Regions from separate parts of the Homo sapiens genome. Here region 2 is linked to region 1. Evidence: fine-mapped expression QTL. Tissue or cell type: whole blood. Region 1 holds a variant in brackets; the other region holds the start of a gene. All regions are shown on one strand. Distances are from middle to middle.

Region 1 (8,000 bases):
ACCCTGTCGTGTGGCTCTTAGCTGGTGGTCCCTAAGTGGGTTTCTCCTGCAGTCCCTCCTAAGCATCCACCCCTCCTCCCCAAGCCTCCAACCCCCCACACCTGAGACTCCCCACGTGGCCCTGCCTGGATGCCACCCACCTGTGTCCCTTCCTCTGTTCCTACTAGTTGTTGAAGACATCAACAAACGGCGGGAACCCATTCCCAGTCTGGAGGCCATTTATTTGCTGAGCCCCACGGAGAAGGTGCCTACATGAGTGAGCGTGTGTGTATGCGCGTGCATGCGTGTACATGTGCATGTGTGTGTATGTCTGCATGCATGTGATTGCATGTGTGCATGTGTATACGTGTGCATGTGTCCATGTGTATGTGTGTGCATGTGTGTGCATGTGTGTGTGCATCTGTGTATGCATGTGTGTGCGTGTTTGCATGTGTGTCTATGTATGTGTCTGTGTGCATGTGCATGTGTGTGCGTCTGTGTGTGCATTTGTGTGTATGTGTGTATGCGTGTGTGTCTGTGGGTCTGTGTGTGCATTTGTGTCTGTGCATGTGTGTATGCGTGTGTATGTATGTGTGTGTGCATCTGTGTGCATCTGTATGTGTGTGTGTGCGTCTGTCTGTGTGCATGTGTGTATGCGTGTGTATGTATGTGTCTGCGTCTGTGTGTGCGTCTGTGTGTATCTGTGTGTGCATGTGTGTATGCGTGTATATGTATGTGCATCTGTGTGCATGTGTCTATGTATGTGTGTGCATCTGTGTGTGCGTGTGTATGCGTGTGTGTATGCGTCTGTGCATGTGTGTATGCGTGTGTGTGCGCATCAGTGTCTGCATGTGTGTATATGTGTGTATGTATGTGTGCGCGCGCATCTGTGTGTGTGCATGTGTGTATGTATGTGTGTGCATCTCTGTGTGTGCATGTGTGTATGTGTGTGTGCATCTGTGTGTGTGTGCATGTGTGCATGCGTGTGTATGTGTGTGTGCGTGCGTGCATCTGTGTGTGTGCGCGTGTGCCCATGTGGGTGCGACACTAGTGTGCATTTGCACATATACATGTCCCCGTCCGTCCATGTTTGCACATGGTGGCAGATGGGGGGTGGCTGGGAGGCCTAGGCAGCCAATGAGCCTAGGTGTGCAGGCTCAGGCCCAGAGAGTGATCCACCTTCCCCAGTCGGTTCAGGCCCTGATCAAAGACTTCCAGGGGACCCCGACTTTCACCTACAAAGCGGCCCATATCTTCTTCACCGACAGTGAGTGAGGAGAGCCTAGGGTGTTGGTGGGTGGGGCAAGGAGGTGTGGGGGCTGCTCTGGCCTGATGCCCCACTCCTGCCTCACCCCAGCCTGCCCCGAGCCCCTGTTCAGTGAGCTAGGCCGCTCTCGTCTGGCAAAGGTGGTGAAGACGTTGAAGGAGATTCACCTTGCCTTCCTCCCCTACGAGGCCCAGGTACGGCCCGGGCTCATCCTGGGCAGGGGGTGGGGGTTTGTGACCAAATGTCCCCTGTTCCCTCAGAAACAGACACTGAGGCTGGGCGCAGTGGCTCATACCTGTAATCCCAGCGCTGTGGGAGGCCAGGGCAGGAGGATCACTTGGGGCCAGGAGTTTGAGACCAGCCTGGGTACAGAGCAAGACCCCGTCTCTTAAAAAAAGAAAAAGAAAGAAATTAGCTTGGCGTGGTGGCGTGCACCTGTAGTCCTAGCTACTCATGGGGCTGGGGTGGGAGAGTCGCTTGAGCCCGGGAGGTCGAGGCTGCAGTGAGCTATGATTGCACTGCTGCCCTCCAGCCTGGGCGACAGAGCGAGATCCTGTCTCAAAAACATACATAAAGTAAAATTTTAAAAAGGGGAGGTACCCACAGAGTCCAAGGAGCTCTTGCCTTGAGTTCTATCCCACTAGGCCCTTGCAGGGGGCAGCGTAGAGCGCACCGCGGGGTTGTCCAGCCAGCTTAAGGGACACGGGCTGGGGTATTTATCCACTGACTCCTGCAGGCATGGGTTTAGGGTTGACCTGGGCCTGCCTCCAATTCGGCAAAGCAGGCTTCAGGGACCAGGGACGGCTCCCAGGAGGTGCAGGTGGCGGCAGCGGGAAGCGGGGCAGGTGTGCACCTGCAGCGGCAACCCTGGTGCTTCTGTCCCCTCCTCGCCCAGGTGTTCTCCCTCGATGCTCCCCACAGCACCTACAACCTCTACTGCCCCTTCCGGGCAGAGGAGCGCACGCGGCAGCTCGAGGTGCTGGCCCAGCAGATTGCCACGCTGTGCGCCACCCTGCAGGAGTACCCGGCCATCCGCTACCGCAAGTGGGGACCCCACCCAGCCCCACCCCGATGCCGACCCCCCCTTAACCGCGTGCAACACCTAACCTTTAACCTCTCTTGTGACCCCAGCCCCGGCCCTACCCTGGCCCCTGACTCTCACCTTCAAACCCATCCTTGACCCCATCCCCTGATGATGTCCCCCGTGTCTGACCTCCCCGCCAGGGGCCCAGAGGACACAGCCCAGTTGGCCCACGCCGTCCTGGCCAAGCTGAACGCCTTCAAGGCAGACACTCCCAGTCTGGGCGAGGTGAGGGGGCGTGCTTGGGAGGTGAGGGGCAGCCCCAACCGGCTCAGGGTCAGTGCCTCATTCCTGCCCTAAACCCCACCCCAGGGCCCAGAGAAAACCCGCTCCCAGCTGCTGATAATGGACCGGGCAGCTGACCCCGTGTCCCCACTACTGCATGAGCTCACGTTCCAGGCCATGGCGTATGATCTGCTGGACATAGAGCAGGACACATACAGGTCTGCAGACTTGGAACCCGTCCCCACCCTTGCCACTGACCTGGTTCCCCAGTCCTCAGCTCCCCTGACCCCCAGGCTCCCTCCTTCCTCCCCAGGTATGAGACCACCGGGCTGAGCGAGGCGCGGGAGAAGGCCGTCTTGCTGGACGAGGACGATGACTTGTGGGTGGAGCTTCGCCACATGCATATCGCAGATGTGTCCAAGTGCGTGCACACGGGGACCGGATCCCCCCCCCACCGCCCACTGTGGGCCTGGTAGCGGCCTTGGGATCCCTGGCTGCTGCCAAGTCTTTGGCCCTCATGAGCACCCCTCGTGTGACTCCAGACTGGCCTCCAATTTCACCCCACCTCTCCCTGTCCCCCCTGAGTGGGCTCACCCATGGCCTGTGGCTCCTCTCCCCTCACTCTCACCCCCGCCCACCCTCATGGCCAGGAAGGTCACGGAGCTCCTGAGGACCTTCTGTGAGAGCAAGAGGCTGACCACGGACAAGGTAGGGGCGGACCCAGGTCACCAAAGGCGCTGGTGGAAGGAAGCCCCCCTCCCCATGGGCGCAGGGCCACAGCCTGGATTTCGAGCCTGGACTGAGACCCAGGTGGGCACTGCCTGGCTTCGCCCCCCAATCCCTACCCTCTTCCCCCTACTTCCCCAGGCGAACATCAAAGACCTATCCCAGATCCTGAAAAAGATGCCGCAGTACCAGAAGGAGCTGAATAAGGTGTGCTCGGGTGGGCAGGGAGCGGGGACACCTCGGCCCCTCAACCCCATGCTCTGTCTGCGTTCTGCCTTGACTCAGCCTTTGTTATCCCCCAACCCCCACCCTGCACCCTGCAGTATTCTA[C/T]GCACCTGCATCTAGCAGATGATTGTATGAAGCACTTCAAGGGCTCGGTGGAGAAGCTGTGTAGTGTGGAGCAGGTGGGGCAGGGCTTGCGGGGGGCAGGGGTGATGGTCCTGCCAAGGCGGGGTATTGGGGAGGGGCTGAACTGTAGAGATGGGGGGTTCTGGGGGAGGGGCAGGGCTTGTGGAGAGGTGGAGGGGCCTTGGAGAGAGGTGGGACCTGGTGGGGAAGGAGTGGGTCTTGTGGAGAAACGGTCCTAGGATGAGGGTGTGGCCTGTGCATAGGTGGATGGGGCTTGGAGAGGTCAGACTTGGGTGAGGGGCAGAGCCTTGGACAGGTGGTCCCAGGACAGGAATGTGGCCTATTCATAGGTGGGTGGGACCTTGGAGAGGTAGGCAGGGCCTTGGAGAGGTGCGACCTGGGAGAGGAATGGAGCCTTGGAGAGGTGGGACCTGGGTGAGGGGCAGAGCCTTGGAGAGGTGGGACCTGGGAGAGGAATGGAGCCTTGGAGAGGTGGGCCCTGGGAGAGGGGCGGAGCCTTGGAGAGGTGGGACCTGGGTGAGGGGCGGAGCCTTGGAGAGGTGGGACCTGGGTGAGGGGTGGAACCTTGGAGAGGTGGGACCTGGATGAGGGGTGGAACCTTGGAGGGGTGGGACCTGGGAGAGGGGTGGAGCCTTAAGAGAGGTGGGACCTGGGAGAGGGGCGGAGCCTTGGAGAGGTGGGACCTGAGTGAGGGGTGGGGCCTTGGAGAGGTAGGAGCTGGGAGACAGGTAGAGCCATGGAGAGGTGGGATCTGGGTGAGGCACGGGGCCTTGGAGAGGTGGGACCTGGGTGAGGGGTGGAACCTCGGAGAGGTGGGACCTGGGTGAGGGGTGGAGCCTTGGAGAGGTGGGACCTGGGTGAGGGGTGGAGCCTTGGAGAGCTGGGACCTGGGTGAGGGGTGGAGCCTTGGAGAGGTGGGACTTGGGTGAGGGGTGGAGCCTTGGAGAGGTGGGACCTGGGTGAGGGGTGGAGCCTCGGAGAGGTGGGACCTGGGTGAGGTGTGGAACCTCGGAGAGGTGGGACCTGGGTGAGGGGTGGAACCTCGGAGAGGTGGGACCTGGGTGAGGGGTGGAGCCTCGGAGAGCTGGGACCTGGGTGAGGGGTGGAGCCTTGGAGAGCTGGGACCTGGGTGAGGGGTGGAGCCTTGGAGAGGTAGTCTCAGGATAGTGGTGTGACCTGTGTGTAGGTGGGTGGGGCACTGGAAAGGTGGGACCTGGGTGAGGAGCAGGGCCTGTGGAGAGACTGTCCCTGGACAGGGGTGGGACCTTGAGAGACCTGGTGCTGAGATGAGGTAGGACCCAAATGTCCTCTTGCCGAGGATCCTGGGGATGTCCTTGGCCCGCCTCTCCCATCCCCTTCCCTGACACATAGCGGCCGGTGGACGGCTGACCCCATGCCCGCAGGACCTGGCCATGGGCTCCGACGCAGAGGGGGAGAAGATCAAGGACTCCATGAAGCTGATCGTTCCGGTGCTGCTGGACGCGGCGGTGCCCGCCTACGACAAGATCCGGGTCCTGCTGCTCTACATCCTCCTTCGGAATGGTGGGTGGGGGCTGCAGGGAGTTGGAACGTCCCCATTTGCCAGCGTCTCCCACGATCCTGGGAACTGCTGAACCCCACAGCTCTCCTTGGGTCATTTGCACTCACCGGGCTCACCAACCCCCACAGCTACCCCTCTGGACCCGGGAACCCTCCTCCATTGGCTTGGGGATTCCTCCACTGAGGTGAGGGCTCCCTGCTAACGTAGAAACCCTCACATCTGTGATTCCTATAGATGTGGGGCTCCCTCAGCTCATCTGGAGGAGCCCCTGATCTACCCCCTCCAGGTTTCCCACTCTTGCTCACACTAGCACAGGGTACTGAGGCCCTCCCCACTGCAAGGTTCTCTCATCAGAGTCCTGGGAGCTCCTCAGCCCACCCCAAACTCCCCTAAACCTGGGAGCTCACCTGGCCGCCGCCTCCACCCTGCCCATTCCCGTCCCCCAGGTGTGAGTGAGGAGAACCTGGCCAAGCTGATCCAGCATGCCAATGTACAGGCGCACAGCAGCCTCATCCGTAACCTGGAGCAGCTGGGAGGCACTGTCACCAACCCCGGGGTACGCCAGGAGCGGGCATGGGGGGACCCTGGGAGAGGGTGCGGATCACAGCCGGGGCTCTGCAAGGCAGAGGGCCATTGGTGCACAGGCACGGTGTGGTTCCTGGCGTGGTGTGGTTGCTGGGAGGCCAAAAGCAGTGTTTCGGGTCTGGTCTGGGGCCCAGAGGACACTGGGGCCTCTCCCAGTCCCAGCTTACACAATAGGCAGGGGAAGTGAGACATGGTCGCTGCCAGGCTGGTCCTGGCAGTGGTGCAGTTGGGAGCGGGTGGTCTGAGTGCTAGAGGCAGGGAGTAGGGTCCCCAGCATGGGGGCTACACCACATTGTCTATCTGGGCTCCCAGGGGTCTCTGAGGGTCCCCCGCACCCATCCAGCACCCACACACAGCCATGTGTGTGCTTGACTCTTGGGTCAGCCTCTCCTGTCTCTCTCTGGCCCTGTGCGTCCCCCTCCAGGGTGCCCTCACCCCGTCCCCATCTCTCCCCCATCCCTCATCCATCTCGCTGTGCACTGTTTCTCCATATCTCTCTCTCTCACCCTTCTCTCTGCCTTCCCCTTTCTCTCTGTTCTCTGTCTTGCTCCCCTCCCCTCTCCGTCCCCCTTCTGTCCCCATCTTCCTCTCTCTGTTTCCTGCTTCATCTCTTGTCTCTCTCTTTGCCTTCATACTTTGTCTCACTGCTTCTTATCTCTTTGCCTATCTCTGCCTCTGTCTTTGTCTTTCTCTGGCTCGCTCTCTCTCCCTTTGGCTTTCTCTCTCCGTCTCTCTCTGGCTCACTGTTTCTCTCTCTCGCTTTCTTGCTGTCTCTCGCTCTCTCTCGCTCTCTGTTCCACTTCCCCATCTTTGCCTGCCATCCCCCACCCTACCAGCCACACCAGGCGCAGCCCCTCTGTGACCAGCCTCCTTCCCCTCAATCCCCCTGCTGCCCTCCCTGCCCTGCCTGTAGGGCTCGGGGACCTCCAGCCGGCTGGAGCCGAGAGAACGCATGGAGCCCACCTATCAGCTGTCCCGCTGGACCCCGGTCATCAAGGATGTAATGGAGGTACTGGGTGGCAGGTCAGGGTGGGGGCCAGCCCTCCGCATCGGCTGGCGGCTCAGCCTCCCTCCTGCTGAGGTGCTAAGCCTCAGGGCTTAGGGGAAAATGCTCATTGCTGGCATTCCCTTGGCACCGATCTGCTCTGCTGAGGGGGGCACGCCAAGCCCGCAGCTGAGGAATTGGGGTGACAGCGGGGCCTGTGCTGGGGAGCCTCACTTCCTCCCCACCTGCCGGCTGCCTCCGCTATATCTCTCTAGTCTGTTCCCCTGTCCCGCAGGAGTGCCCCTGAGCCCCAGCCCTGGCCTTCCCAGGATCCCAGGGCAGCACCATCCAATGGCAATGGGCCTGGGGCGGCTTCCTGGCTTCCTCCTTGTCCCTCTAAGAGCCCCGGCCCCTCTTTCTGCGTGGGGGCCAGAGACCTGGGCCTCCTCATCCCCATGGACCTTGAATACCTGGACTTCTGGGGCTCTGAGGGGCTGAGAGCCCAGACACTGGGTTCCCCAAAGGGCTGGGGGTATTGACTGATGGTCCCCAAGGGCCTGGAGGCCCAGACTACTGGGTTGCCGAGGAACTGTGGGTTTAGACTTCTGGGTACCCAAGGAGTTATGGAATTAGATTCGTGGGTCCCCAGTGAGTTATGGATCTAGATTTCTAGGTCCCCAATGGACTAGAGGCCTAGACTCCTGGGTCCCCCAGAGGCAGGAGGTGGAGATGCTGGTTCCTGTCTGCCAGGATCTTGGCCCCTGAATACCCCGTGGGGGGCACTCCTGACCCCGGACCCCATGCCTGGGGTTCCTCCCCTAACCTGCCTCTCGGCCGCCAGGACGCCGTGGAGGACCGGCTGGACAGGAACCTGTGGCCCTTCGTATCCGACCCCGCCCCCACGGCCAGCTCCCAGGCCGCTGTCAGGTGAGGCCCCGGGGCCGCCCCCGCCCACGCCTGGGTCTGTGTTAGGTGGGCGGCCTGGCGGCGGTGAGGGCCTCCTGCCTGGACTTTCTGCCCCTGCCCTGCACAGTGCCCGCTTCGGTCACTGGCACAAGAACAAGGCTGGCATAGAAGCCCGGGCGGGCCCCCGGCTCATCGTGTATGTCATGGGCGGTGTGGCCATGTCAGAGATGAGGGCCGCCTACGAGGTGACCAGGGCCACCGAGGGCAAGTGGGAGGTGCTCATTGGTAAGTCACCAGGACTGGGACCCTGGGGTCTGGGGCTTGGGTTCCCGGGGCC
Region 2 (8,133 bases), 47 kb before region 1:
TGCTGGGATTACAGGAGTGAGCCACTGTGCCCGGCCTGTATGTTATCTTTTTACGTATCACTTTCTGAGTGCATTTGTGTGCATGAAGCTGACATTTACATTTGTGTGAATTTGTGAATATTTGTGTGAGTCTGTGAGCACTTATTCCTGTTCACAAGGTGACAAGGTGCCTATGTATGTGTGTGTGTGTGTGTGTGTTCTGAAAGTAACACACGTTTTTCTTTTCTTTTTTTTTTTTTTTTGAGACAGAGTCTGGCTCTGTCACCCAGGCTGGAGTGCAGTGGCAAGATCTCAGCTCACTTCAACCTCTGCCTCCTGGGTTCAAGCGCTTCTCCTGCCTCAGCCTCCCAAGTAGCTGGGATTACAGGCATGTGCCACCATGCCTGGCTAATTTTTGTATTTTTAGTAGAGACAGGGTTTCACCATGTTGGTCAGGCTGGTCTTGAACTCCTGACTTCAAGTGATCCACCTGCCTCGGCCTCCCAAAGTGCTGGGATTACAGGCTTCAGCCACCGTGCCTGGCCGAAAGTAACACACTTTTCTTTCCAGGCCTGTAAAGAACGAACTCACACAAACACTTGTGCATTCACAATTATATACAGCTAAGAGGCATGCAGGGGATATTTTGACAAAAATACAATGGAGGGCCAAGCACAGTGGCACATGCCTGTAATCCCAGCACTTTGGGAGGCCGAGGTGGGAGGATCCCTTGAGCCTAGGAGTTTGAGATCAGCCTGGGCAATATAAGGAGATCCCATCTCTACACAAAACAAAAAATTAGCCAGGGATGGTGGCTGCAGTGAGCCATGATTGTGCCACTGCACTCAAGCCTGGGGTGACAGAGTGAGATCCTGTCCAAAAAAAAAATAAAACAACAACAACAAAACAAACAATAGAACAAAAGCAAATATTAAAATATTAAAAACATCCGGCTGGGCGCGGTGGCTCATGCCTGTAATCCCAGCACTTTGGGAGGCCGAGGCGGGTGGATCACCTGAGGTCAGGAGATCAAGACCATCCTGACTAACACAATGAAACCCCGTCTCTACTAAAAATACAAAATATTAGCTGGGCATGGTGGCCGGCGCCTGTAGTTCCAGCTACTGGGGAGGCTAAGGCAGGAGAATGGCGCGAACCCGGGAGGCGGAGCTTGCAGTGAGCTAAGATTGCACCACTGCACTCCAGCCTGGGTGACAGAGCGAGACTCGGTCTCAAAAAAAAAAAAAAAAACAAACAGAAAAAAAAAAACCAAAAATCCACAAATCGGTGCTTAGACCTTACAAATAAACACACAATTGCACTCATGTACACAAATATTTGTACTCAACGCGTTCACACACACTTCCATACTTACAGACACAATCAGATTCATACACAGAAATACATTTGCTTACACAGATATGAATTCCTAGATAAATATGCACATTTGAACTCTCACAAAAGCATTCAGACACAGGCATTCTTTTTTTTTTTTTTAATGTGACGGAGTCTCACTCTGTCGCCCATGCTGGAGTACAGTGGTGCAATCCTAGCTTGCTGCAACCTCTGCCTCCTGGGTTCAAGCGATTCTCCTGCCTCAGCCTCCCAAGTAGCTGCAATTATAGGTGTGGGCAACCACGCCCGGCTAACTTTTGTATTTTTAGTAGAGATGGGGTTTCACCATGTTGGCCAGGCTGGTTTTGAACTCCTGACCTCAGGTGATCCACCCGCCTCAGCCTCCCAAAGCACTGGGATTACAGGCATGAGCCACTGCACCCAGCAGAAACAGGCATTCTTGCACAGGTATACCTGCTTTCATGCCTACACAATCTGTCACAGGCACCCACCATATATTCAAATCCACAAAGATACTCACATATAAACACACATATATGCACAAAAATATAGTCAGGAACTGCTCATCATAAATCACACATCTGCTGGGCGCGGTGCCTCAAGCCTGTAATCCCAGCACTTCAGGAGGCCGAGTTGGGCGGATCACGAGGTCAGGAGATCGAGACCATCCTGGCTAACATGGTGAAACCCGGTCTCTACTTAAAAAAAAATACAAAAAACCAGCCGGGCGTGGTGGCGGGTGCCTGTAGTCCCAGCTACTCGGGAGGCTGAGGCAGGAGAATGGCATGAACCCAGGAGGCAGAGCTTGCAGTGAGCCAAGATCGCACCACTGCACTCCAGCCTGAGCGATAGAGCGAGACTCCGTCTCAAAAAATCAATCAATCAATCAATCACACATCCATGTGCATATAGCCAGATTCACATACTCAAATACAAACCCACTTAGACACACAGCCTCACCTCCACACAGAGCCTTCTCCCAGCACACACTGCAGATACCAGAATAATACACAAAGACACTTGCAAATACACCCAGTACAGCTACGCAAGGACACTCATAGACACAAATAGTCACACTCTTGCAGAAATATACACACTTTTTTTTTTTTTTTGAGACAGGGTCTCACTCTGTTGGCCAAGCTGGAGTGCAGTGGCACTATCTCAGCTTCTGCCTCCCTGGTTCAAGCGATTCTCCCGCCTCAGCCTCCCGAGTACTTGGGATTACAGGCATGCACCATTATGCCCGGCTAATTTTTAAAAATTTTATTTTTAGTAGAGACGGGGTTTTGCTATGTTGGCCAGGCTACTCTTGAACTCCTGGCCTCAAGTGATCTGCCCGCCTTGGCCTCCCAAAGTGCTGGGATTACACTCGTGGCCACCGCTCTCGGCCTGAAATACACACACTCTCAATGTCTCTCCATACTCCTGCATTGACAGAGGCATCAATAACAGCCTCATACAACACACCAGTACGTTCAGATGCACAGAGATAGACATACTCACAGCACTCCAAAAACACACACACAGCCGGGCACGGTGGCTGCCGCCTGTAATCCCAGCACTTTGGGAGGCTGAGGCGGGTGATCACCTGAGGTCAGGAGTTTGAGACTAGCCTGGCTAACATGGTGAAACCCCAACTCTACTAAAAATACAAAAATTAGCCGGGAGTGGTGGCGCAACCCCGTAATCCCAGCTACTCGGGAGGCTGAGGCAGGAGAATCGCTTGAGCCTGGGAGGCGGAGGTTGCAGTGAGTCGAGATCGCGCCACTGCACTCCAGCCTGGGAGACAGAGTGAGTGAGACCCTGTCTCAAAAACAAAAACAAAAACAAAAACAAAAAACAGACACACACTCATCACTTCCATCCATCCTCAGGATACAGACATCTATATAATACATATCCTTGTACACACAACAAATTAAACACACACTTACACGTGCCCAGATACATACCCCACACACACACACCCCTAGACACCCCCCAATACACTTGGTCACCACCCAAATGTATTCAGAGATACACAGATACGAAGACACTCATATTCTTGTGCCTTCACTAACATAATCAGAAACAGGTGCACCCAACCACTCTCTGCCTGAGGGCCGGCGTTTATTGCAAGCACTTGCAGGAGCTCCTACGCCTAAGGGTAGACACTGGGGCTGGCACACACAGAGGGTCCCTAATCCTTTCCAGTAAGCTAGGCGCGCGCGCACACACTCACACACGCGCGCGCGCACACATACACACTCAGTCCTCCGCAAGCTCCCTCCACCATCGCCGCAGTCCAGGCCGCCCCCCTCCGCCCCGCCCCTGCTGCTCCGTGCACACTGCAGTGAGGGGCCCGGGCGGGGCGCAGGGGCGCGCCAGGGTCCGGGTCCGGGTTCGGGGGCGGGGCGCACCTGGGCTCCTCCCCGGGGCGGGCCCGACGCAGCGTCGCCAGCGCAAGCGGCCGCACCTGGCTCAGCAGCGGCGGCGGCGGCGGCGGCGGCAGCGGCGGTAGCAGCAGCGGGCCCGGCTGGGGCGCGAGCGCGGCGCAGCCCAGCCCAGCCCAGTCCGAGCGCGGACCCGGCGCCCGCAGCCCCGGCGCCGCCATGGTGGAGGCGGCGCCCCCCGGGCCCGGGCCGCTGCGGAGGACCTTTCTAGTGCCCGAGATCAAGTCGCTGGACCAGTACGATTTCTCGCGGGCCAAGGCGGCGGCCAGCCTGGCGTGGGTGCTGCGGGCCGCGTTCGGGGGCGCAGGTACCGGGGCTCGGGGGACCGGGGTCGGGGGCGGCGGGCCGGGCGCGGCAGGTGCTGGGGGGGGGCGGGGCGCCGGGCCGGGAAGGCAGGGGGCCGTGGGAACAATAGCGCCGGCCGCCGGGGGTCCCCGGGCTCGGGCCCCTGCCGCGCCGGGGCCTCCGAGCTTCCTGCTCGGCCCGGGCGGTGGACTTTGCCCCGCCGGCTGCGGGAGCGCGGTGGGGGTGGGGCCCGCGGCCCAGCTCCGCGCGGGGGTCCCCGGCGTCCAAGCCTCCAGGTGAGCCGGGCGGGGTCTGCGGGCCGGGTGGGGTCTCCCCGTGCGGACCTCTCGTTCCCGCCTCCCGCACCCCCAAGGCCTTCCCTTGCACGCCTTCTTCTCTTTTACACACATCACGCCCCTGCGAGGATCTCCTCTCGGTCTCTTCCCCCGCCACACACCCTGGAGACCCAGACCCCGACCTCGCTGGGGGGTCTCGAGCGCTCCGGTCTCCACCACCGCACGACCCCCAGGCCCCAACACACACCCCGCGTCGGCCCTGGCCGCGCTGCGGGCGGCGACCGGGGAGCTCTGGGAACCCCCTTTCGCCTCCATAGCCCCCTCCAGCGCCTGGCAGCTGCGACTTATGGCCCCATTTTACTGGGGAGGTTGGCGAGCCCAGCTGAAGGGAAATGGGTAGTACAAGATCGCCTGGGGTGGGCCCCCCGCTCCTCCCGGCTGCGGGGCCTTCTCCCATTAGAGCAGATCCTTCACTCCCTCCCCCAGGCCCGCTTGCCTGAGAGCCCGAGCCACCCTAATGGGGAGGATGCCGTAATCCCGGGTCCCCGGGATTAGAGGCCCTGGAAACACTCAGTCTCGGCTTTGGGCAGCTTCACAACCCCAGGCCAGAGCTAGGAGTCAGGGCCTGGCCAGAGAAGACAGGGGTTAATTAAGGTCTGGGCTTTCCAGCGGGGAGCTGTGGGGGTACATCCTTTTCTCCCACTGGTTCTGCCCACTGGTGTTGGCACAGCCCATCCCCCCTCTCCCTGGCCTTCCCAGATCAACCTGTTCTGGGTGTGGGTCTCAGTGACAGCTGTCCGTCTCCTGGTTCCGCCCCAGCCTGTCCCTCTTTCTCCCAGACAGTCTCTGTCTGCGTCGTTCCATGCATGCATTTCCCACTCTGGGGTCTACCTCCCTGCAGATATTTGCTTGAGGAAGAAAGAGATTGGGCATTGGACAGCCAGGACAGCCCCAGCTCCTCACTTCCAAGGTTACCAGGCTGTAGAGAACTCAACGTGGAGTGTCAGAATTGAATGTGAAGTCCAGCTGCACCAGAATGCGAATTATCCCAATTATCTGAGCTTCTGTTTCCCCTTCTATAAAAGAAGGCGTTCATTCACAGACTTATCTGTTTTGCGAATGTTTGTGGGGCAGGGGCACTTGCTATGTGTAGGGCACTGCTCCAGTGATGGAGACCCCCCGTTACCTCTTTGCAAGGTTGCTGGGAGGCGTAAAAGCTGTAGTGACCACAGAATTCTTCGCGTGGCACGGGGCGCGTGATACATGCGAAACGGTTGCTCGCTGCTGGTGTGATTGGCGGTGGTATATTTTGATGAATAATATTAACGTTATCCATTATCCCCTGGCCAGGAATCAGAGTAGAAATTATCCCATTTTGAAGACAGCAAAGCAAACTTCTGATGAGGGGTGTTGGTGAGCTCCCAGTGCCCTGACTCACCCAGTTCTGTTCTTGTTGACCCAGCTCCCTCTGCTGTGTGACACACGGCAGTGGCTGCCTCTACCGTGAGGGTCAAGTTCAATCTGTTCCCTGTTCCACTCCCCTAAAAAGAGGAGAAGGGCTGAAGGAAATGGGAGCAGAGTTCTACAAGATTCATGAGCTCTGGGGACTCTTGACGGTATGATACCTATCAGGTGCTGGGCTGGGCGCTCAGGGTGTAGAGGAGACGGCAGGGGATGGATATGGGGCAGAGGGGGATGGGCAGGAAACCAGATCATAGGGAAGCTGGCCAGCGGGGCCTGGGGAAAGAAATTCTTGAAATCTTCCAGGGAGGGAAGAGATCCCACAGGTGGAAAGATTTGAGTCTGGAAGGATGCATGGAAGTTTGACACGGAGAAGAGATGTGTGGGCAGTGGGCAAAGGCTCGGAGTGTGGACCAGCAGGGAGTTCTCAGAGAATAAGATGCAGGTCCCCGGGGTGGCGGTGGGAGATAAGGGAGGCTGGTCAGACTGAGGAAGGCCCTTCAGGCCCCTGGTTATGGATCCAAGGGTACTGGGGAGCCACGGACAGTGTTGGGAACTGACAAGATCAGGTATGCAGTGGCCCCGTGGGAGTAGTGATGGCTCAGAGGAAGGGATAGTTCTGGCAACTCCAAGGCACAGGTGTGAGAAGGCTGTGCAGAAATAAAAGCAGAACACAAGCTTGGAGATTAGATAAGAAAGGGTTCCAAGCCTGGCCAACACGATGAATCCCCGTCTCTACTAAAAATCCAAAAATTAGCCGGGAATGATGGCACACGTCTGTAGTCCCAGCTACTTGGGAGGCTGAGGCAGGAGAATTGTTGAACCTGTGAGGCGGAGGTTGCAGTGAGCCGAGATTGCACCACTGCACTCCAGCCTGGGTGAAAGAGAGAGACTCTGTCTCAAAAAACAAAGGGTTCCATGTTAAACACATTTGGAAAACACCCCATGCAGTTCTTTATGCCTTCAGAACAGATGTGTGATGTGTGAGGGAAACTCAAGTTCATGTTGGACATTTTTATCCTGGACAAGTTATCTCAGCTCTCCAGGCCTTGGTTTTCTCATCTGTACAAGGGGTATAATAATAAGTGTCGTAAGGATTAAATGACTGGATGCAGGGAAGGTCATGGTATAAATAAATGGTTGGGTGTGGTGGCATGGGCTTGTAGTCCCAGCTACTCAGGAGGCTGAGGCAGGAGGATTGCCTGAGCCCAGGAGTTCCAGGGTACAGTCAGCTATGATCACGCCACTGCACTCCAGCCTGGGCAACAGAGTGAGATCCTGTCTCAATCAGCCTTCCATCCATCCATCCACCCATCCATCTACCCACTCATCCATCCATCCACCCACCCATTCATTCATCCATCCATCCACCCACCCACCTACCCACTGCACTCATCCATCCACCCACCCACCCCACTCATCCATCCACCCACCCCACTCATCCATCCACCCACGCACTCATCCATCCACCCATCCATCCACCCACTCATCCATCCATCCACCCATCCATCCACCCATTCATTCATCCATCCATCCATCCACCCACCTACCCACTGCACTCATCCATCCACCCACCCACCCACCCACCCCACTCATCCATCCACCCACGCACTCATCCATCCACCCATCCATCCACCCACTCATCCATCCTTCCACCCACCCATTCATTCATCCATCCATCCATCCATCCATCCATCCATCCACCCACCCACCTACTCACCGCACTCATCCATCCACCCACCCCACTCATCCATCCACCCACCCACCCACCCCACTCATCCATCCACCCACCCCACTCATCCATCCACCCACGCACTCATCCACCCACACACTCATCCATCCACCCACCCCACTCATCCATCCAACCACGCACTCATCCATCCACCCACTCATCCACCCGCCCATCCATCCACCCGCCCATCCATCCACCCACCCACCCACCCATCCACCCACCCACCTACCCACCCACACACTCTCCCACCCACCCATCCACCTATCCACCCATCCATCCACCCACCCATCCACCCATCCATCCATCCACCCACCCACCAACTCATCCACCTACCCACCCACCCACTCATCCACCCACCCACCCATCCACCCATCCATCCACCCGCCCACTCATCCATCCACCCGCCCACTCATCCATCCACCCGCCCACTCATCCATCCACCCGCCCATCCATCCATCCACCCACCCATCCATCCACCTACCCACACTCCCACCCAGCCATCCACCCACCCACCCTCCCACCCATCCACCCACCCACCCTCCCACCCATCCACCCACCCACCCATCTACCCATCCGTCCGTCCATCCACCCA

What was found. PIP is the estimated chance that this variant, and not a neighbour inherited with it, causes the effect.
Region 2: it holds the start of CAMSAP3, and the variant in region 1 is fine-mapped to the expression of CAMSAP3 in whole blood (GTEx, PIP 0.99).

What each region holds. Positions count from the first base shown.
Region 1 is chr19:7,639,564-7,647,563 of GRCh38, forward strand. It overlaps STXBP2 (syntaxin binding protein 2), which reads left to right. Exons shown (of 19, transcript NM_006949.4): 4 at 168-244; 5 at 1,168-1,246; 6 at 1,337-1,440; 7 at 2,142-2,290; 8 at 2,471-2,555; 9 at 2,640-2,770; 10 at 2,866-2,973; 11 at 3,203-3,260; 12 at 3,420-3,485; 13 at 3,602-3,682; 14 at 5,051-5,189; 15 at 5,634-5,743; 16 at 6,686-6,781; 17 at 7,599-7,684; 1 more. Among named protein-coding and RNA genes, the nearest start is that of STXBP2, 6.5 kb to the left of the region's middle. RefSeq lists a silencer at 4,501-4,550. The variant C/T (reference allele first, on the strand shown) is at 3,609.
Region 2 is chr19:7,592,077-7,600,209 of GRCh38, forward strand. CAMSAP3 (calmodulin regulated spectrin associated protein family member 3) reads left to right here and starts at 3,787. Exons shown (of 17, transcript NM_020902.2): 1 at 3,787-4,074. The coding sequence starts at 3,927. RefSeq lists silencers at 1,223-1,423, 3,487-3,926 and an enhancer at 4,766-5,371.